Linked DNA regions of Homo sapiens: all the other regions are linked to region 2. Evidence: fine-mapped expression QTL. A gene starts in region 2. Each other region holds a variant in brackets. All regions are shown on one strand. Distances are from middle to middle. Region 1 overlaps GPALPP1 (GPALPP motifs containing 1). Region 2 holds the start of GPALPP1 (GPALPP motifs containing 1). Region 3 overlaps NUFIP1 (nuclear FMR1 interacting protein 1).

Region 1 (7,211 bases), 40 kb after region 2:
TGATCTTGGCTTACCGCAACCTCCACCTCCTGGGTTCAGGCGATTCTCCTGCCTCAGCCTCCAAGTAGCTAGGTTTACAGGCATTCGCCACCATGCCTGGCTAATTTTGTATTTTTAGTAGAGACGGGGTTTCTCCATGTTGGTCAGGCTGGTCTCGAACTCCCGACCTCAGGTGATCCACCCACCTCAGCCTCCCAAAGTGCTGGGATTACAGGCGTGAGCCACTGCGCCCAGCCTTGATTACCTATTTTTTCTTAGCAATATTTGATGATTTTTTTTTTATCTCCTTCAATTTTGTTGAACATAAAGAATTGGAAAGCACTTGATTTGCTAATCAGTTTGTTTCTAAAGACTTTATCAATATTTATAAAATACTTAAGAAGTACTTTGCTTAACCCAGTATATTGAGCAGAAATAGGAAAATGTGAATAGTGTCAATTTAAATACATATTTACTAATGTATCTTTTGTACATTCTGCTAAAACGTTATGGCTCCAGATTGAGTTCAGTTAATTTATGAGACATGGCTGTCACATAATCTAATTGACAAAGTCATTTCTGGTTGTCAGATCAGCCAGACCAGACTTACTTTCTGATTCACTTTTTCCATTCAAATAAATGTGTTAATGACCATTCATATGACACTCTGAATTCTGATCTAGGTGCCATTTTACCTTCTAGATAAAATAAGATACTGTCACTTTCAGCATTTTTTACTAGTGCCTTGTTATTTTGCTTTCACTGAGGTTTCTTCACTCCTTCCCCCTCAAGTACATTCTTTGGCAGTAGGAAGGGCCTGGAAGAGGTATGGTTGTTAAGCAAAAATTGTCTTTTCTTCCATTACCCACTCTTCAATATATCTGAATTCAGAACATTTCAATAAAAGGTAAAATACCCATTTCTAAAGGACACTACACTCTTAGGAGAAATGTGTTTCAGACACAGAAGGACACAGAACCCTCCTGTGTTTACAGTTTCTTGATTAAAGGAAGTTTCAATCATACCGGTATTTTAGGTTTTTTGTCTCATACCCTGAAGACTTTTGCTTTCCTAAACAATATTCTATAGCCTCCTTTGTTAAATGAGAAAGGGCTATAATGAAAGGGATGGCATCTTCACAAGAGGTAGTCTAGGCCAAATCAATTGTAAGAAAGACTACATGAAGAAGTAGAGAATCATGGAAAAATAGCCTTAAAATTACCCATGCCTTCATACTCCATAGACTCTACTCTCTGTAGCACCCAGGGATACGTATACCCCAGATTGAAGGCTGCTGGTCTGTACTACCTGCATCTCCTTTTCCATCTCCCTCCCTGCTCCTTCCATCCAGGACTGTTCTATCCTTTACCTTAGTCAATACTCAGTGGTCTGTAGTCAATCCCTAGTTTATTAAATCAATTGTTTTTGCTCAGACTTTGTCTTACTAGATACATCTGAAAATGTGAACACCTACCCTAGCTAAGAAGAAAAAAAATTGAGGGAATTAAGGGAAAAAGAGAACGACAGAAAACTGAAAGGAACAAAAATTATCTTAGCTTATGGAACATGCCAACATATGCTGCACAGGCCTTGAATTTTGCCACATCCGTGTTCTTACTACTTTTCTTTTACCTTTGTTTTTGCTTCAGCCTGACAGTGCCTTTCCTTCCTATCCGTCCATTTAGCCTTCAAAGACCAGCACGTCTATGAAGTGACAATATGATTGCTCTTTCTTTCACACCCCGTTCTTGGTTTGTACTCTGATGTTTAGTATTTAAATAACCATAATGCTTTTCATTACATATTTTCTTTATAAATGCTGTCTTGGATTTGGAAAAAAAAAAACTACTGGGGTTTGTAAATAGCCCTCCTTAATGTGCACCATTACTATCTATTCCGTTTCATGGTCATATTCTGTCAATAATCTATATACAAACTATAGTTTTTATTTCTGCTCTCCTGCTCTCTCCAGGAATCAAAAAGATCAGAATCTCTTATGGACATACATCATAAAAAGTTAAAGAGTAAGGCTGCTGAAGACAAAAATAAGCCTCAAGAGAGAATACCATTTGACCGTGATAAAGATCTCAAGGTTAATCGGTTTGATGAAGCTCAGAAAAAAGCCCTAATAAAAAAATCTAGAGAACTAAACACCAGATTTTCACACGGCAAAGGCAATATGTTTTTATAAGTAAGTATATTTCAGTGAGGTATATTTTAATACTGATCAATGTGAACTTTTCTAAATACTCTATTGTCTTTAATAATTGTGCTGAAATCTATTTCCTTTTATAATAGATTAAAAATTTTATATTTTTATAAGTAAACAGTGATTTTTGAAAAGTCAGCCTTGTGGGATGAAAAATATGTCTTACTGGAAAAATCCCTCATAATAACCTAATAGGGCATTGCTATTAAAAATGCTAAAATAAAAATTCAGCTTATGAGAAATGGCAAAGGAAGGTGTGGTTTGATACTTGAGTAAATATGCATGCTTTATTAAAGATGAAGAAAGGCTTGCTGGTTGTTTGTATGTTAAACAAAATCCCAACTAGGAAATGTTTGTTGCTTAGAAAGGTCCCCTATAAGTTAAGGTTCAAAACTATTCCAATATTCATCCATAGCCCAATCTGACAAGGGTTCAGAATGGTGATTAAGAAATTACATAAAGCTGGGTGCAGTGGCTCACGCCTGTAATCCCAACACTTTGGGAGGCCAATGTGAGAGGATCGCTTGAGCCCAGTAGTTTGAGACCAGCCTGCTTAAGATGGTGAGACCCCGTATCTACAAAAAACTAACCAGGTGCAGTGGAGCACACCTATAGTCCCAGCTACTCAGCAGGCTGAGGTGGGAGGATCCCTTGAGCCCAGGAATTCAAGGCAGCAGTGAGCTGTGATTGTGCCATTGCACTCCAGTCTGGGCAACAAAGTGAGACCTCGTCTCTTTAGAAAAAAAAAAAGAGGCCAGTGGCTCACACCTGTAATCCCAGCACTTTGGGAGGGTGAGGCGGGTGGATCACCTGAGGTCAGGAGTTCGAGACCAGCCTGAACAACATGGTGAAACCCCATCTCTATTAAAAATATATATATATAAAAATTAGCCAGGTGTGGTGGCACGTGCCTGTAATCTCAGCTACTTGGGAGCCTGAGGCAGGAGAATTGCTTGAACCCGGGAGGTGGAGGTTACAGTGAGCCGAGATCGTGCCACTGCACTCTAGCCTAGGTGACAAGATCGAGAGACTCTGTCTCAAAAAAGAAAGAAAAAGAGAAGAAAAGAAATTACATAAAAGCTGAGGTTGCTTCTTAATATCTTTATGATTTTTAATTGTATTAAACCTATATCAATATTCAAATGTGATTTTTGAGGAAAATATGTTAAATTTAGAAATATTTTCCAAC[T/G]TACTGAGTTTTCTTATTCTTACCTCAGGGGGATTTCCCTGTGCAATGAAGAAAAGTTGAAGAATACTCTTTGTCCATCTTTATTTCTTTGTTTTTGGCTTCTTAAGATTAGAGATTACTTTAATCTTAAAAAACATACAAATTTACCTTGTTCTGTATGTCCTTTTAAGGTCATGTGGAAACATAAAACGAATGTTTTTTATGTAGAACAGAATATTCTATGTGCCTTTAGCTTCTGTGGAAGTATGGGGAATTATGGGCTTTTCTTCAAATAATTATTTTAAGAGGCTTCCATTCCCCCTGATTTTTGTGGTGTCTCACAAGTACCCTCTAAGGTCTGGTCAGGACTGACCACCAAATCTCTACCACAGCCTGGACCTCCTTGTGAAATATACCTAACCTGCCCTAGAGTCAGTGTGTCAAGTCCTTACTGTAAATCCATGACTTTGAAATTTGTTGTTTTTTCCCTTTAAACTGCAGCCAGTGAATACAAATTTACTTGAAAATAGAGGGTATGGGGTTTTGCCTGTTTTGTAATCAGTTTGCTTGTTTTAGCACTCAGGGCTTTTTATTTGTTATTTAATTTTTTAATTGTTTTTAAGTCAGAAAGATCTCTGGGTTATCTCATGTGCTAAGGAAAAACTATTTTGCTTTTTCCAACTTTAATAGTTAGTATTTCTAGGGGAGGCAATCAAGATAAGATATGCCATTAACTGTTAGCATTGTGAAATCTGTAAGACTCAATCTCTGATCTCAACCAAAGCTTTCTGAGTCCTGGAACTTTGCTTTGGGACAACTTTACTTTACCCATTTATATGCTGTACTTAACAGTTTGTAGCTAATTTATGGGGTCATATCTTTTTTTTAGCTAATTTACGGGGGTCATATCAGTCATGAATAGCCTTTTTTAAAAATTTAATAATCCCTGAATACAAAAATGGAAATGGAAAATTTATAATCATAACCCCCCTAATTGGGAGTATTATAAGTTTGTAATGCTTTAAGCACTGCCTCTTAAGATGATAAATTTATAAGATGAGAAATTCTATTTAAACTATTAAACTATTGTTAAATAAATGCCAATTCTATAAGTTATATTTTCTTGCAGATTAATCCCAATTGTTCCACTAGTATTCTAGTTTTGATGAGACACAAATTTTTGTTGTTGTTTATTTTTGTTTTTTTGAGAGATGGAGTCTTGCTCTGTCACCCAGGCTGGAGTAGAGTGGCGTGATCTCAGCTTACTGCAACCTCCGCCTCCTGGGTTCAAGCGATTCTCCTGCCTCAGTGTCCCAAGTAGCTGGGACTACAGGCGTGCACCACCATGCTCAGCTAATTTTTGTATTTTTTAGTAGAGATGGGGTTTCACTATATATTGTTCCAGGCTGGTCTCGAACTCCAGACCTCAGGTGATCTACCTGCCTCGGCCTCCCAAAATGCTGGGATTACAGGCATCAGCCACCATGCCTGGCCAAGACACAAATTTTTAATGGAAAAATATTCTGATTCCCAGTTCATGTAAGCTTTATGAAAATTGAGTATATTGTTTATATGATGGTACAAATTATTCTTCCTCTAATAATAGCAGTACAGTATATTTTTTCCATAGCATCAGTGTAAACCATAGCAAACTAAAGGAGCATTGCTATTAAAAAGATGAATTAGCTGGGCGCAGTGGCTCATACCTATAATCCCAGCACTTTGGGAGGCCGAGGTGGGTGGATCACCTGAGGTCAGGAGTTCAAGACCAGCCTGACCAACATGGTGAAATCCTGTCTCTATTAAAAATATAAAAATTAGTCGGGCCTGGTGGCGGGTGCCTGTAATCCCAGCTACTCAGGAGGCTGAAGCAGGATAATTGCTTGAACCTAGGAGGCGGAGGTTGCAGTGAGCCAAGATCACACCATTGCATTCCAGCCTGGGCAACAAGAGTGAAACTCCATCTCTAAATAAATAAGTAAATAAATAGATGAATTTTTCTCCTAAGCAAATTGAAAAAGCTTCTTGTGTACTCAAAATTGAACAGAGCTACCTTTTGACTAAAAATGTCATTTTTAATGAGCAGTATTTTCTGAACACAAAATTTTGTACAAGAGTGTCTCCATTGCATTAATTTAATTTTGTTATAATTTTTTCCCAATGAAAGGAAAAAAGTATTTTGTAGCTCCTCTTCCTTATGTAAATTCTTAACATATATTTTTGAGAAATTTGCATTTTTTAAAGTAAAATTGTTATCTTTGGATACTTACTTTTCTTTGTTTTCCTCATTTAAAGAGAATAGGGATATTTCTGTATTATATATTTACTGTTTCATCCCTCACCTTTGGAGTGACCATGACCTTGGCATGAAGGAGAGAAACCTCTGCTTTCCGCCTATTGCTTCCAGGAGTTACTACCTTACTGGCCTTGGAGATAATGCTCTTTTGTGCCAACCTGAGGATAATTTTAACAAAATGTAAGGCCAGTTTCAGAGGTTGTTTTGCCCCACAGAGAGACTAATCCCAATACAAGAATATTGACAACAAAAGGACAAAGTAGTTATTGCACAGGACGGAAAGGTGTCTTTATTTCATCCCCTCCCCACTTCCAAAGATGCAAAAGGCCTAATTGAATCAAGTCTCCTTTCCATCTGGCAGGAGACATTTTAATAAGGACTTTTTAATTTCCTACATTTCTTGGCCAAGTGTCATAGGAATGTGGCCTCTTTTGAAATTTAAAAATGAAGAAGAAAAAAAGAGCAACACTAAGTTAATATAATGGAGCAGATACTTTTAATGTTCTTACCATTGAATATGCCATTTAAGTTTGTTATACTTGAAATTATATGATTTTTGTCCAGCTCTCTAAATTGTCATCTCCAATAGATTTAGATGCTTCAAATAGTAACCACATTACTGGTAAGTAAACGGTGGGGTTATTGGGTTTAGCAAGTGGGGAAGTAAGGGGTGAACAAAACACGAGAGATGGTGGCTACACCCCTACTAAGACTGCCTTACCAGATAAATGAAATCCTTTTTGTATTAGGCACAACATGGTAAATTAAGTCTTGCTCTAAAAAAAAAGAAAAAGAAAAAAGAGAAAAGCCCTGATCTAAGAGTTTTTAGATGCTAGCAACCTTGTTTAGATGTAGATCTTGTTTAGATGTAGCAACCACTTGACATTTAATTTATCATCTTAACCTTGAATGATTCTTTGTTTTGTTTTTTGTTATTGAGATGGAGTCTCACTCTTGCTGCCCAGGCTGGAGTGCAGTGGCGTGATCTCGGCTCACTGCAACCTCCACCTCCCGAGTTCAAGCGATTCTTCTGCCTCAGCCTCCCAAGTAGCTGGGACTACAGGCGCCCACCACCGTGCCCAGCTAATTTTTGTATTTTTAGTAGAGACGGGGTTTCACCATGTTAGTCAGGCTGGTCTCGAACTCCTGACCTCAGGTGATCCGCCCACCTCAGCCTCCCAAAGTGCTGGGATTACAGGCGTGAGCCACCGCGCCTGGCCTGAATGATTCTTTGTATTAACGATTTATTTAGAAGTGAGGTTGAGATTGGCCAGGTGCGGTGGCTCACGCCTGTAATTCTAGCACTTTGGGAGGCCAAGGCAGGCGGATTGCCTGAGCTCAGGAGTTTGAGACCCAGCCTGGGCAACATGGTGAAACCCTGTCTCTACTAAAATACAAAAAATTAGCTGGGCATGGCGGTGTGCGCCTGTAGTCCCAGCTACTCGGGAGGCTGAGGCAGAAGAATTGCTTGAACCCAGGAGGCGGAGGTTGCAGTGAGCCAAGATCGCGCCACTGCACTCCAGCCTGGGCGACAGAGCGAGACTCCATCTCCAAAAAAA
Region 2 (7,211 bases):
TAACAGGAGTTTGAAAGAAGAAATTCCAACCCTCATAGACGATTTTGAGGAATTCAAGACTTCAGTGGAGGAAGTCACCTCAGATGTAGTAGAAACTGCAAGAGAACTACAATTAGAAGTGGAGGGGCCAGGCGCAGTGGCTCACGCCTATAATCCCAACACTTTGGGAGGCTGAGGTGGGTGGATCACGAGGTCAGGCGATCGAGACCATCCTGGCTAACATGGTGAAACCCCATCTCTACTAAAAATACAAAAAAATCAGCCGGGCGTGGTGGTGGGCGCCTGTAGTCCCAGCTACTAGGGAGGCTGAGGCAGGAGAACGGCGTGAACCTGGGAGGCAGAGCTTGCAATGAGCCAAGATCGAGCCACTGCACTCCAGCCTGGGCAACAGAGCAAGACTCCATCTCAAAAAAAAAAAAAAAAAAAGAAGTGGAGCCACAAGATGTGACTTGCTGCAATCTCATGGTAAACCTTTAATGGATGAGAAGTGGCTTCTTATGGATGAGGAAAGAAAGTGCTTTTTTGAGAAGGAATCTACTCCTGGTGAAGATGCTGTGAACACTGTTGAAATGACAACAAAGGATTTATAATATTATATAAACTTAGTTGATAAAGTAGCCTCGACTTCCTGGGCTCAAGGAATCCTCCTGCCTCAGCCTCCCATGCTTCTAGGACCACAGGCATTCCACCACGCCTGGCTAATTTTATTTTTTTTGTAGAGACGGGGGTCTCACTTTGTTGCCCAGGCAGGTCTCAAACTCCTGGGCTCAAGCAATCCTCTTGCCTCTGCCTCTCAAAGTGCTAAGATTAGGCTGGGTGCAGTGGCTCACGCTTGTAATCTCAGCACTTTTCGGAGGCCAAGGAGGATGGATCACTTGAGGTCAGGAGTTCGAGATAAGCCTGGCCAACATGGTGAAACCTTGTCTCTACTAAAAATACAAAAATTAGCCAGGCATGGTGGCGGGCACCTGTAGTACCAGCTGCTCGGGAGGCTGAGGCAGGAGAATCACCTCAACCTGGGAGGTGGAGGTTGCAATGAGCCAAGATCACGCCATTGCACTCCAGCCTGAGCAACAGAGACTCTGTCTCAACAAATTAAAAAAAAAAATAAATAAAGTGCCCAGATTATAGGTGTGAGCTACCCTGCTCAGCCTAAAGTATTTTTTAATCAAGGTATGTAAGTTGTTTTTTAAGACATAATGGTATTGCACACTTACTAGACTATGGTATAATGTAAAAATAACTTTTTTGCCCCATAGGATCTGCAGGAAAACATACTTTTACATGCAACGGAAAACCAAAAAAAAAATAATTGTGTGACTTGCTTTACTGCAGTGGTCTGTAACTGAACCCACAAGAGCTCCAAGGTATCCCCAGATCTAGAATCCAACTACTTCTCACCATCCCTTGGGCTTCACCCTGGTCCAAGTCTCCAATATCTCTTGTTTAGAAAAGTAACTACAATAGCTTCCTAACCGGTTTCCCTTTCAGTCAGTTCTCACCAACAGACACATTAATCCTCTTAAAACGTAAATCAGGTCATGTCAATCCGCTGTACTACCCACCTCACAACAGTAAAAGTCAAAGTCCCACGATCTACAAAGACATACCAGGTCTTACCCTCCTCCCCCATCTTCTACAATTATACTCCAGACTCAGTCCTCTGTAGCCACACTGGTTCCCATTCTGATGTATAGCTTCTAAGCCTCAAGACCTTTGCACTTGCAGTTCCTTCTGCCCGTACCCCTATTCTCCCAGTTGTATGCATGGCTGTGATCTCTCACCTCCCTAAAGTCTTCGCTCATATGTCACCTTCCTTATGACTAACAATGACATTTAAAACTGCACTACCTGGCCCGGCGTGGTGGCTCATGCCTGTAATCCCAACACTTTGGGAGGCTGAGGCGGGCGGATGCCTGAGCTCAGGAGTTAGAGACAGGCCTGTCCAACACGGGGCAACCCCCTTTCTACTAAAAATATAAAAAATTAGCCGGGTGTGGTGGCGTGGGCCTGTAGTCCCAGCTACTCAGGAGTTTGAGGCATGAGAATTGCTTGAACTCGGGAGGCAGAGGTTGCAGTGAGCCTCTCTGCAGAGACTGCATAGGCTGGAGTGAAGTAGATCGCGCTACTCTTCACTCCAGCCTGGGCGACAGAGCGACACTCTGTCTCCAAAAAAAAAGAAAAAAAGAAAATCCTGCACTACTTACCATTCTTCTTTGTTTTATCTCTCTCCATGCCACTCAACCTTCTAATGCACAATATTTTATTTTGCTTATTGTCTGTCTTCCTACACAAGAGAGATAATATTAAGCTCCATAATATTTTTTGTATGTTCTGCTCACTGCTATATACCCAGATTCTGGTACATAGTCGGAATTCAATAAATAACTGCTAAATGGAATTAACAGTCAACAGGAAAACATTCTAGTCAGACATATTTTGAGAACAAAGGATTTACAATATTATATAAACTTAGTTGATAAAGCAGCCTCGACTTCCTGGGTTCAAGGAATCCTCCTGCCTCAGCCTCCCATGCATCTGCGACCACAGGCATGCCACCATGCCTGGCTAATTTTATTTTTTTTGTAGAGACGGGGGTCTCACTTTGCTTTGAGATGCTAATGACCAGACTCCAAGAGTGCAGAGGCAAGGCAGAGTAGAGAGAGGAAGCAGAGAAAGGGGAGAGGAAAGAACGGGGGAAAAAGGTAAAGGGGTCGACTCACGTGGAAAAATAGCCTACCTGCAGGGTTGAAGGACTTCTGATGCCGAGGAAACCTATCAGAAGACTGTCTCCAATACCACGATGTGGAAGCATGGAAATTCCAAGGCTGGCCGCTGGGTTGAGGCTGAGAATCAAGGGGAGACTGGGCGTCGAAGGGGGGTTGCGCCCCGGGAAGAATCTGGGCGTCGAAGGGGGGCGGAGCCCCGGGGAGAGACTGGGCCTCCATGGGGGGCTGCGACTCAGAGGAAGGCTTTGACCCGGCTGCGGGAAGCGAGGACGTAAGTGGTGGTGGCGGTGGCGGCAGCATTGCCCAGAACATCCAGCTGTCCCGCGGCGGGGCAGTGTCGCTCAGGGGCCCTAACGTGGGAGTCAGCTCGGGAGACGCATGCCACCCGATAGGAGTCTCGAAATCACTAGTCGGCTCAGCCATACCACTGGCGGGTCCGGAGTCTAGCACGCGACTGTGGAGCAAGCATTAGGCGTCACTTCCTTTACCGTGAACTACAAGGCTCAGCCAACCACAGGCTTTACGTCATTTCTCGGCGCCGGGAAACCTGCCATTCTTCGCTGCTGATCGCGGGATTCTTTTTGGATAGGGTTGACGTTCGTGGATAGACTCATATCTGTGACCAGTGTCCGCCACCGCGGATGGCAAGAGACCTGATCGGACCGGCCCTGCCGCCCGGCTTCAAGGCCCGCGGAACAGCGGAGGACGAAGAGCGGGACCCGAGCCCTGGTAAGCGGCGGCGTCTCCGCTGCCCACCAGGCCCATCTACCCACTCCCTGGCCGGGCCCTGCTCGCTGAAGAAAGTCGGAGGCCTAGGAGGGCGGAGGAGTGGGGAGTGGGCGCGGCCTGACCCGAGAGAACTTTTCTCTTCCCAAACAGTAGCAGGGGGGAGGAGGCTGGGGGACCCTCCTAGAAACGAGCTTTGGCGTGGTTTGGCTTCGTGATGATAATACATTCTCATTTAGCCTTAATATGAGCTGCACGCTGCCCTAACTGACTGATACCCACTCAGTCATTTAAGCCGTATAAGAAAAAAACTATTTTCCCATGTTGCAAATGGGTACGCCCAAGCCCATGCCAGTGTCTAGATCATACTGCTAGCAAGTGATGGAGCGCGACTTAGAAGGAAGCGGTTCTCTTAACCTCTGTGCCATATTGCCTTCTGATTACAAGAACCTTGCAGATCCTGTTCTCTCCAGCCCCCGACCTGCCTTCCTAGCCTCTCATTCTGTTATTGCATCTGACAAACACAGCCCAATACTCAATCCAGTCTGAGTTGCTGCGCAATTCCTTAACGCTCTAGGCTTCTGGGCTTCCTCTGGTTGCATTCCTAAACATAACTGACAAACTTCTCCCCATCCTTCAAGGCCCAACTTAAATGTCACACCAATAAAACCTTTCCAGATTCCCCGAAGCATTGTCATGCCTTTCTTTTTGCCCTCGGGTTTTTTCCTAATTACATTGCATATTTAGTACACTGTATTTGAATAATTTGTCGACATAATCTGTCTCCACCATTGCACTATGGTCTTCTACCTGAACACGCAACAGGCACTTGGTATATACGAAACGAATGCTTCTCGGATTCCGGCATGCATACCTATCTGCTTTAATGTTTATTCACATTTGTAGACTAGCACCGACACCCAGTTGGAGAAGAGTAAAGCTGAAAGAGTAACCCTGCCATTTCTGAATCTAATTTTTCTTCCTGGTCTACCCGGAGGCTATGTTTCTACTACAGGCCCCTTTCCAATATAATTTCTGTCATAACCACTTTAAAAATTATGCCTTCCAGCTGAGCGAGGTGGCACAAGCCTGTAATCTCAGCACTTTGAGAGGCTGAGACGGGGCGGATCACTTGAACTCAGGAGTTCAAGACCAGCCTGGCCAACATGTTGAAACCCCATCTCTACTAAAAATACAAAAATTAGCCGGGCGTGGTGGCGGGCGCCTGTAATCCCAGCTGCTCTGGAGGCTGAGGCAGGAGAATCGCTTGAACCCAGGAGGCGGAGGTTGCAGTGAGCCGAGAGTGCCACTGCGCTCCAGCCTGGGCGACGGAACGAGAGTTTGTCTCAATAAATAAATAAATAAAAGTAAATGTGAAAAATTATGCTTTCCTTCCTGTAGGAGATAGCTTTAAAAAAATAAAATAAGGCCAGGTGCGGTGGCTCACGCCTGTGAACCCAGCGCTTTGGGAGGCCGAGGCGGGCGGATCACGAGGTCGAGAGATCGAGACCATTCTGGCCAACATGGTGAAACCCTGTCTCTACTAAAAATACAAAAATTAGCCAGGCATGGTGGCACGTACCTGTAGTCCCAGCTACTTGGGAGGCTGAGGCAGGAGAATTGCTTGAACCTGGGAGGCGGAGGTTGCGGTGAGCCGAGATCGCGCCACTGCACTCCAGCCTGGCGACAGAGTGAGACTCTGTCTCAAAAAAAAAAAAGAAAAAGATTCTTCGTATATATTTGTTGAATGACTTCTCTTCGTCAAGCACAATATCTTACACGTAGTGTGTCATTTTAAACACATAATCTCCCCTGCTATAATTCCATTCCCTTCATAACCGCCTAGATGGCTGAACCTAAAACGGTTGCCAAAAAATCTTCATATATCATTTTTATTTCATCTATCTGGATTTTTAAGAAGTTTGCCAGTACCAATGGCCTTCACATCCACTATATCACACCATAGAAGCTGCACTTGGACCATCTTCCAGTTATTACCTGCATCACCACCCCTCCTACAACCAGAGGGTAACTGCTTCCTTGATTTATAGCATCACAGATTCGTTTTGCATGTTTTCTCTTTCATAACTGGCTTCCTATCTTGGTACTACATTACTTTGTGAGATTCATTCATGTAGATTAGCATTATTATAGATTGTTGAAGTTCATAATCTGGTCTTTAAACAAACAGAATTATTATAGGTTGTTTCTTTACATTGCTATATAGTCATCCATTAGATGAATGTTCTGCAATTTATCCATTTTACGTTGGATGAACATTTGAGTAATTTCCATTTGGAGGCTGTTATAAAATGTGCTGCTATGCATTGTAGTATATGTCTTATGGTAGATACTCCCAGCTTCCAAAGTCACCAAAGTTCTCAGCGTGTATGAGAATTCTAGTTGTTCCACATTCTAATATTTAGTTTTTTTCTTTTAAATCCGGTGGTTTGTAGCAATATCTCATGGTAGTTTTAATTTGTATTTCCCTGGTGACAAATGAAATTGACCACCTTTTCATGTGTTATTTGACCATATGAATACATGCTGTGTTCAGTCTTTTGCTTATTTTTCCATTGAGTTGTCTGTCTTCATATTGATTTATAGAGTTCTTTTTATAGTCTGGATATGAGTCATTTTCCAGATAGGTGTATCAGAAATATCTTCTCTAATTCTGTGGTTTTTTCACTCATGTTGGTATGTTTTGATTAACATAAGTTTTTAATTTTAATATATTCTGACTTTTAATTTTTTTCTTTTATGGTAGAATTTTTTGCATCCTATTTAAGCTATCTTTGCCCACCCCAAGGTTATAAAGCTCTTCTGTGTTTTCTTCTAAAAGCATTATTGTTTCAGCTTTCACATTTATATTTGCAATTCATCTGGAATTGATATTTGTGTGTGGTGTGAGATAGGGATGAAAATTTTTTGCCCCTGTAAGGGTATCCTGGCACCATTTATTGAACAGACCATCCTTTCACCACTATCACCTTCCTTATAAATCAGGCAACCATATATATGCATCTAGTTTTTTTTCTTGTTTATTCTGGTAAAATATACACATCTGTCATATTAACCATTTGTAAGCATATAGGTCAGTGGCACTTAGGTACAGTCACATTGTTGTGCGGTCATCACCACCATCCATCTCTAGAACTATTTTCATCTTGCAAAACTGAAACCTATTCCCATTAAACAATAACTCCCCATTCTCCCCTCTGACCCAGTCCCTGGTAACTACCATCTACTTTCTTTTTCTGTTAATTGGACTATTTTAGGTACTTCATTTAATGGAATCATACAGTACTTGCCCTTTGGTTACTGGCTTATTTCACTTAGCATAATTTTTTCAAGCTTTACTTATTGTAGCACGTTAGAATTTCCTTTCTTTTTAAGACTCAACAGTATTCCGTGTATGTATATACTGTATAGACTACATTTTGTTTATTCATCTGTTGCTGGACCCTTGGGTTGCTATGTATGCTATTGTGAATAATGCTGTTATGAACATGGGTGTACAAATAATCTGTTCAAGTCCCTGCTTTCATTTCTTTTGGTCGTATACCCAGAAATGGGATTGCTGGACCATGTGGTAATTCTACAACATTTTGAGAGGCCGGGCACGGTGACTCACACCTGTAATCCCAGCACTTTGGGAGACCGAGGCAGGTGACCTCACCTGAGGTCAAGAGGTCAAGACCAGCCTGGCCAACATGGTGAAACCTCGTCTTTACTAAAAATACAAAAATTAGCCAG
Region 3 (7,211 bases), 54 kb before region 2:
TGTGAGATCATAGCTGATGCCTGGCCTATGTAGTCAGCACTCAATAAATAGTAGTCGTACTGTCAGGACTCTGGAAAATAAGAGAAATGAATCTGAGCAAAAAATAGGAAATTATAAGAATAGCAGTATCTTCTAGAAACACGCAGGCAGAAATGCAGCCAAGTTTGGAATACCTACCCTGCCCTTGCCACTCTGTTTGTACAGTGTGACCCCATTCATTGCTGCTCATTCAGCTACTATGTGCCAGGCACAGTGCCTGAGGCCGGAACACAATAGGAACACAAACAGATACGGTTTTTTACATTGTAAAGCACAGAGGTTACAGTCTAGTGGAGAGAGACAAATCAAATTATCACGCAAGGAAATAAAAAACTGCCACTGTGGTAACTGCTGAGATAGGCAAGTACATGGTGCTGAGTGTGTATAAAAGGAGTGACCCACTGAGGGAGGTCAGCAAAGGCTTCCTGAGGAAGCGATGACCAAGCAGAGACTCAAGTTTAAGCAAGCAATAAGACAATAGGGAAACGAGAAGAGCTTTCCAGACTTAGAGAAGAGCAAACGCCTCCTGGCAGGCGGAAGCACACTGAGGAAGCATGGCTGGAGCTCAGGAAGATGAGGAGACCTGCCAGATCACAGTAAAACCAAGGTCACAGAACGAGGGTTTTGCCCACAGCTACACAACTTCTGGGATACTTTCCTTATACTACCACCTTCCTAGTCAACAGACTTCATTTTCTTTCCTCTCCAAACCTTCCCCTGGGACAGAGGTCCATCAGTTAATGCTCATTCCAGGGTAAAAAAGAAATCACGAAGTAGAACATGAAAAGGAAATGCAAAAACTTGAGCCACAAAAACTGGAGACCTCGCTATGGAATTTTTCTTTGTTGAGTGTGCCCAGGAGTCTTGGGGATGGTCTATGTCAGTGGTATTCAAAGTGTGGTCCCAGGACCAGCCACATCAGCATCTCCTAAACACTTATTAGAAAAGCAAATTCAAAGGCCCCACTCAAAACCTATGAATCAGAAATATGGGAGGTGGAGCTCAGCAATCTGAATTTTAACAAGCAAAAAGCCCCACAAAAAGGGTTCCTGTTGCACAGACAATAGTCTAAATCAGTGCTTCCCAAACCTGTCTGATCATCTGAAGCAACTGGGAGCTTGTTAAAATATTCCTGGGCCACACCCCAATACCTACAAAAATTGAAATCTCAGGGCAAGGCTTGGGAATCTATATTGAGATGATCATCCTGGTTTGAGAACCACTGGTCTATATCAAAGTAACACATTGTCTGACACAGTGAGCAATTAATTCCAAGTGTCATTTGTCCTTGCCAAGTAATTAAGGGTAGTAAGTACCTCAGGCTCTGCCAGTCCAACTCAGTACATTATTTGATTTATATCTTCCATCTCCTTAGCTCTTCCCAATTTTAAAACAATATAAGACACTTCCAATTTTGACATTTGTTGAGAAATTTCTCCTTGTCTCTCAGTCTTATATCATCACAGCCACCACAAACTGTATGAGACTTAATAAGTGCTTACCAAATTCAAGCATTATGCTTTTAGCTGCAGTCTAAAAATCTGTTCTGGAAAATATCCCTTTCAAAATATCAAAAAGAAAATCATCCAGCCTTGTAATACAAACAGGCACCCAATTCAGAACTTTTTTCTCTGCCTCTGCGAGGAAATGGATTTTCTACTATCGTGACTCAGTATTTTTTATTTATTTATTTATTTATGAGACAGAGTCTCACTCTGTCGCCCAGGCTGGAGTGCAGTGGTACAATCTCAGCTTACTGCAACCTCCACCTCCTAGGTTCAAGTGATTCTCATGCCTCAGCCTCCGGAGTAGCTGGAATTACAGGTGCCTGCCACCATACCCGGCTAATTTTTGTATTTTTAGTAGAGATAAGGTTTCACCATGTTGGCTATGGCTGGTTTCAAACTCCTGACCTCAAGTGATCTGCCCAGCTTGGCTTCCCAAAGTGCTGGGATTACAGGCGTGAGCCACCACACCCAGCCTCAGCACTGTTTTAAATAAACATACAAATAAATATGGGATGAATTAAGACAATATTACGTTAACAAACAAAAAACCTTCCAGAGCTGAAAGAACAGATAATATCATAGATTCATTTTCAAGTATCAGCATTTTCAAGAATTTTCCCATATGCTGAAATTTATGCAGCTGATCTACAAATAATATTGACTGGTCTCTTAGAGGTAATTTTACATTTCTCAGAAGCTCTTAAGCAAGACAATGATATGTGACTCACTTCCCACAAGATTTAAGAAGGCCACAGCCCTGGTAAGAAGTGAAAAAAAAAAAAAATGAGTGGTCGCCTTAACATGTAAAAAGTGTGTAATTATTGGTTAGGATAGTTTCAGAAAGTTTAGTGGTTACAGGCAGCAACCTTTGAGTACATAAAATCAGAATTTATGAAGTGGCTGCTGCTATGACTCTAATAAAACAAGGAAGCAATTTAATAGTTTTAAGAAAATGGAAAAGAGCACAGGAAGGAAGAAAAGATAGGCTTGAGTAAATTACTCTGCCCCTGAAGATAGAAAAAAAAAAAAAAACACTAACTGTAAAATTGTATAATAATAATGAACTGTTTGCTGTGGTATATGGTATTATCATGTTCAAAGGAAAAAAACCCTACAAAACCTAGAAGGCATTATCAAGAAGATAGGCCATGTTACCTGTAAAAGTAAGGGGATTAGAGCAAAAACAAAAAAAGTTGAAGGTCCTCTTCTCTACTTCTATAAAATAGAGAATTTAAAAGAAAAACCTGACAGATCCCTATCTCATACCATATGGAAAACAGATTAAAGACTGATATGTAGTATCACAAAAGTAATAGAAAAAAATATGTATTGGGGGGTGACACAAAGCCCCAAAGCCAAAGTAACAGATCCAACCTCTGCAAAAGTTAAAATACTAGCAAGAAATTGAAATATTTAACAAAAGATTGAGATCTATAATAAAGTATTTGTACAAATCAAGAATAAAAGGCAAAACAACAGGAAAATAGAGAAAGGATGAGAACAGACAAGTCACAGAATACAAGGGCCAAAAATATACATATTTGAAAAAATGCATGGCTTCACTAGTGTCAGGGAAATGCAAGAGAAAAAAAGGCATTCTCACCTGACAGAGTAACATTACCATATTTGCTGTTGTGGGATGTTCTTGACTCTCAGTAAGGTCATCTAAATGTAACCTGTGTTGTGTTTGAAAAGTCCAACACTGGGATCCCTGCACTACTGTTCTGGACTGGGGGCTGCTGACTGACTGGATCAGTCCTCAGGGTAGAGGGTGCTCCAGAAGGAAAGGCACAACTCCCTAGCCAAAAGCCATGTGGGGTATGAAAAAGGAGGCCTGGACACTACCTGGTCCTTCTTCCAGTCTCACACTCTCCTGAAGCACCTGAATGATAATCCCCAGCTGAACTCTGAGGAAAATTTAAATTTTTTTTTCTAAATTAGGATACATCTTACACACTGGCACATTTCACGCATTGGCAAAACTAGTAGAAAGATTTGTAATACATTGGTAAGAACATGGGTAAAAAGAAATTCTCATGTACTAGTCAAATAATAATTTTCAGAAAGTAAAAAACATAACAAAGTAAGCACAGGTCAAAAAACTTATTAAACTTATTACCATAGGACCCTGCAAGATGACAAAAGAGAATGTCACAGAAGAATGCTGGAATAAGATCTCATAGTTAAATGCTAATGTGGTTAATGTTCTACAAGGCTAAAAAACTGTAACCTCTTTTCTATCACAGAAAAATAACA[T/C]ACCACTCTACCAGATCATCGTTTGCAGCTTATCAAATGATGTACAAGTTAACATCTAGCTCTAGAGTCTGGGCCTTAACAACAGTAAATCATAGTCACAATATGTTAATTACCCATTAGGTGAATTTGTTTGACAATGCTCTAGTACACTGTTTCTCAAACTTTTTTGTTGTTGTTAATTTTTTTTTGAGACAGAGTCTCCCTCTGTCACCCAGGCTAGAGTGCAGCGGTGCAATCTTAGCTCATTGAAACCTCTGCCTCCTGGGTTCAAGTGGTTCTCATACCTCAGCATCCGGCACAGCTGGGATTACAGGCATGCACCATGCCCAGCTAACTTTTATATTTTTAGTAAAGACAGGGTTTCGCCATTAGATTGTACATGAATCTAAGTGCACCATTAGATTCTCATAGGAGTGCAAACCCTATTATGAACTATGCATGCAAGGAATCTAGGTGCACTCCTTAGGAGAATCTAATGCCTGATGATCTGAGGTTGAACAGTTTCATCCCAAAACCATCCCCCTGCCCTGTGCATGGACAAATTGTCTTCTGTGAAACTGGTCCCTGCTGCCAAAGAGGTTGGGGACCACTACTCTAAATCTTCAGCCAGTTAACAAGCTCCCTTCTCAGTCAAGGTTAAATGCAGAAAGACAGCTTATACAAATGCAGGGAAAACATACACCAACTACCAAGAGGGAATCCCTCTTTCCTAGCTAAGGGGGAACATTTAAGGACAACAGACAGCACACAGAGCCAATGATAATCAAAGGGGAAAACAAGGAACAGAAAATGTGAAAATTCTGATTGATCTCCTCTGAGATGTAAGGGTACTACATGTATGAAACAAGAATTAGAGGATGGGCGTGATGGCTCACGTCTGTAATCCCAGCACTTTGGGAAGCCAAGGCAGGTGGATTACCTGAGGTCGAGAGTTTGAGACTAGCCTAGCCAATATCGTGAAACGCCATCTCTACTAAAAATACAAAAATTAGCCGGACGTGGTGGTGCGCACCTGTAACTCCAGCTACTCTGGAGGCTGAGGCAGAAGAATCGCTTGAACCCGGGAGGTGGAGGTTGCAGTGAGCCGAGATAGTGCCATTGCACTCCAGCCTAGGTGACAGGGCAAAACACTGTCTCAAAAAAAAAAAAAAAAAAAAAAAAGGTGGGGGCGGGGGAGGGAGGGGCTGGGGCTGGGCATGGTGGTTCACACCTGTAATCCCAGCACCGAGGTAAGCAGATCACCTGAGGTCGGGAGTTCGAGACCAGCCTAATCAACATGGAGAAACCCCGTCTCTACTAAAAATACAAAATTAGTCAGGCATGGTGGTGCATGCCTGTAATCCCAGCTACTCAAGAGGCTGAGGCAGGAGAATCGCTTGAACCCAGGAGGCAGAGGTTGTGGTGAGCCAAGATCGCACCATTGCACTCCAGCCTGGGCAACAAGAGTGAAACTCTGTCTCAAAAAAGAAAAAAAGAAAGAAAGAAAAAGAAGAGAAAAAAGAATTAGAGACAGCAATCTTTAATATGTAAATACAAATTACTAGCAAGGCGAGGTGGCTCACACCTGTAATCCCAGCACTTTGGGAGGCCAAGGCAGGAAGATCACTTGGGGCCAGGAATTCGAGACCAGCCTGGGCAACATAGTGAGACTCCATCTCTACAAAAAATTAAAATTTAAATTTAAAAAGTAGCCAGGCTAATAGTGGTGTGCGTGCCTGCGGTCCCAGCTAATCAGGAGGCTGAAGTGGGAGGATCACTGGAGCACCAGAGTTTGAGATTACAGTGAGCTATGGTCATGCCACTGCACTCCAGCCTGGGCAACAGAGTGAGACCCTGTCTCTAAAAAATAAAGAATTACTAAATTTAAAATGAAATAGAAGAGCTGAATAATAAGGTAATGGATATGTTCAAAGAGTGAATTAGTGGTCTGGAAGGTGATATCTGAAGAAATCTTTCAGAATAAATAGATCAAGACAAAATACAGAAGTATAGTGTAGAGGGTAAGTTAATAGGTTTGACATCCACCTAAGAAAAATAATTTTAAAAATCTTATTTAAAATTGCCTTTTAGTACAAGAATGGTACAATGACTCAGATGAAAGGACCGTGGGGGTAAGCAGCATGAATGACAAATGTCCCAGAGATCTAGACACAAATTGGTGAAATTTTAGGACTCCAAGCATAAAAAGAAAACCCCAAAAGTTTTTCATGAGGAAAAAATAGGTTACTTATCAATAAATAAAGAGAGGTAATCGGATTGGTGTGACTTTAATCAACAATACTGGATAACAGCAAATGATTGTTATAGCTTCAAAATTCCAAAGGAAAATGATTTTGAGTCTAAAACCATAACTCAATTTAAAAAACTTTAAATTGAAGATTCAACATTTAATTACTTGAAGATATGCAGCAGCACACCAGAAAACTAATCCTGGGATGCAAGAGAAAGCAATCAGAAGAAAACAGTAAAACTCACAGTGGCCTAATAACTATTTACACATACGCACCAAGATCCCAGGGATTAATCTAAAACTAAAATCGTATCTGATTACATCACAAAAAGAGGCTGAGGTGGGGAAGTGAAACAATGCTAAGGTTACTGACTTAATTGGGAGATGGATGGAAGATGTGGCTACTAATTAACTCTAAACTTAAAGAAAAAAGGTAATCACTAAAGAAATAGCAATAGGTTTAATTACTTCCAAACCACTGGAGGAATAACAAGGAGAAAAAAATAACAAGCCAGTAAGATGACAAAATAAAAACAAGAGAGCATGATATATAGAAAATACAAAGTAAGACAGCCAGGAATAGTCCAAATGTTTTAATAATCTCAATTAATATAAATGTATTAAATTTCCCAGAGCTGGTTTGATTAAGGAAAATAGAAGTCAATTATAGAGGATATGAGAAAAAGTAAAGTATTTCAGTTATAAAAGGCACAACTCACCAATAGTCATGTAATGCTTACATTTCAGAAACTGATTAAACGAACAATAAGATAGGAATGTAGAAGGCAGAAAGTTTGAACAATTAACAAGCTAAATCCAAAAAAACCTGTACCCAAAACAGGCAAAGCACCCCTCTACCCACCCAAAACTCATAGAATATTTACAAATATTGACCATATAATTCCATAAAGTAGAAACCATACAGGCTATATTATATCTCCTTAGAAATTTTAAATACACTTGGAATCTGAAATACCCATTAAAAATAAACAATAGTCACCATAGCTAAAGACTGTCAGACATACAGCCAAGGGAGTACTCAGGAGTATTTTCAGTCCTAAATACATTTATTATCAGGAAACAAGAAAAATGGAAAATAAAACTGTTTCTATAATATACCTTAAGGCAGTGTGGGGATCAACAACATCCCTGGAGATATGGTCATCAATGAAAGTAGT

The links. PIP is the estimated chance that this variant, and not a neighbour inherited with it, causes the effect.
Region 1: its variant is fine-mapped to the expression of GPALPP1 in blood mononuclear cells (TOPMed, PIP above 0.99).
Region 3: its variant is fine-mapped to the expression of GPALPP1 in whole blood (TOPMed, PIP 0.97).

Annotation. Positions count from the first base shown.
Region 1 is chr13:45,025,834-45,033,044 of GRCh38, forward strand. It overlaps GPALPP1 (GPALPP motifs containing 1), which reads left to right. Exons shown (of 8, transcript NM_018559.5): 8 at 1,952-4,472. The coding sequence ends at 2,170. Among named protein-coding and RNA genes, the nearest start is that of GPALPP1, 40 kb to the left of the region's middle. The variant T/G (reference allele first, on the strand shown) is at 3,378.
Region 2 is chr13:44,986,285-44,993,495 of GRCh38, forward strand. GPALPP1 (GPALPP motifs containing 1) reads left to right here and starts at 3,254. Exons shown (of 8, transcript NM_018559.5): 1 at 3,254-3,458. The coding sequence starts at 3,371. It overlaps NUFIP1 (nuclear FMR1 interacting protein 1), which reads right to left and starts at 3,187. Exons shown (of 10, transcript NM_012345.3): 1 at 2,741-3,187. The coding sequence starts at 3,152. RefSeq lists enhancers at 2,725-3,363, 2,988-3,057, 3,248-3,437, 3,364-4,000.
Region 3 is chr13:44,932,638-44,939,848 of GRCh38, forward strand. NUFIP1 (nuclear FMR1 interacting protein 1) reads right to left here. Exons shown (of 10, transcript NM_012345.3): 10 at 6,612-7,211. Among named protein-coding and RNA genes, the nearest start is that of TRE-TTC2-1, 18 kb to the left of the region's middle. The variant T/C (reference allele first, on the strand shown) is at 3,804.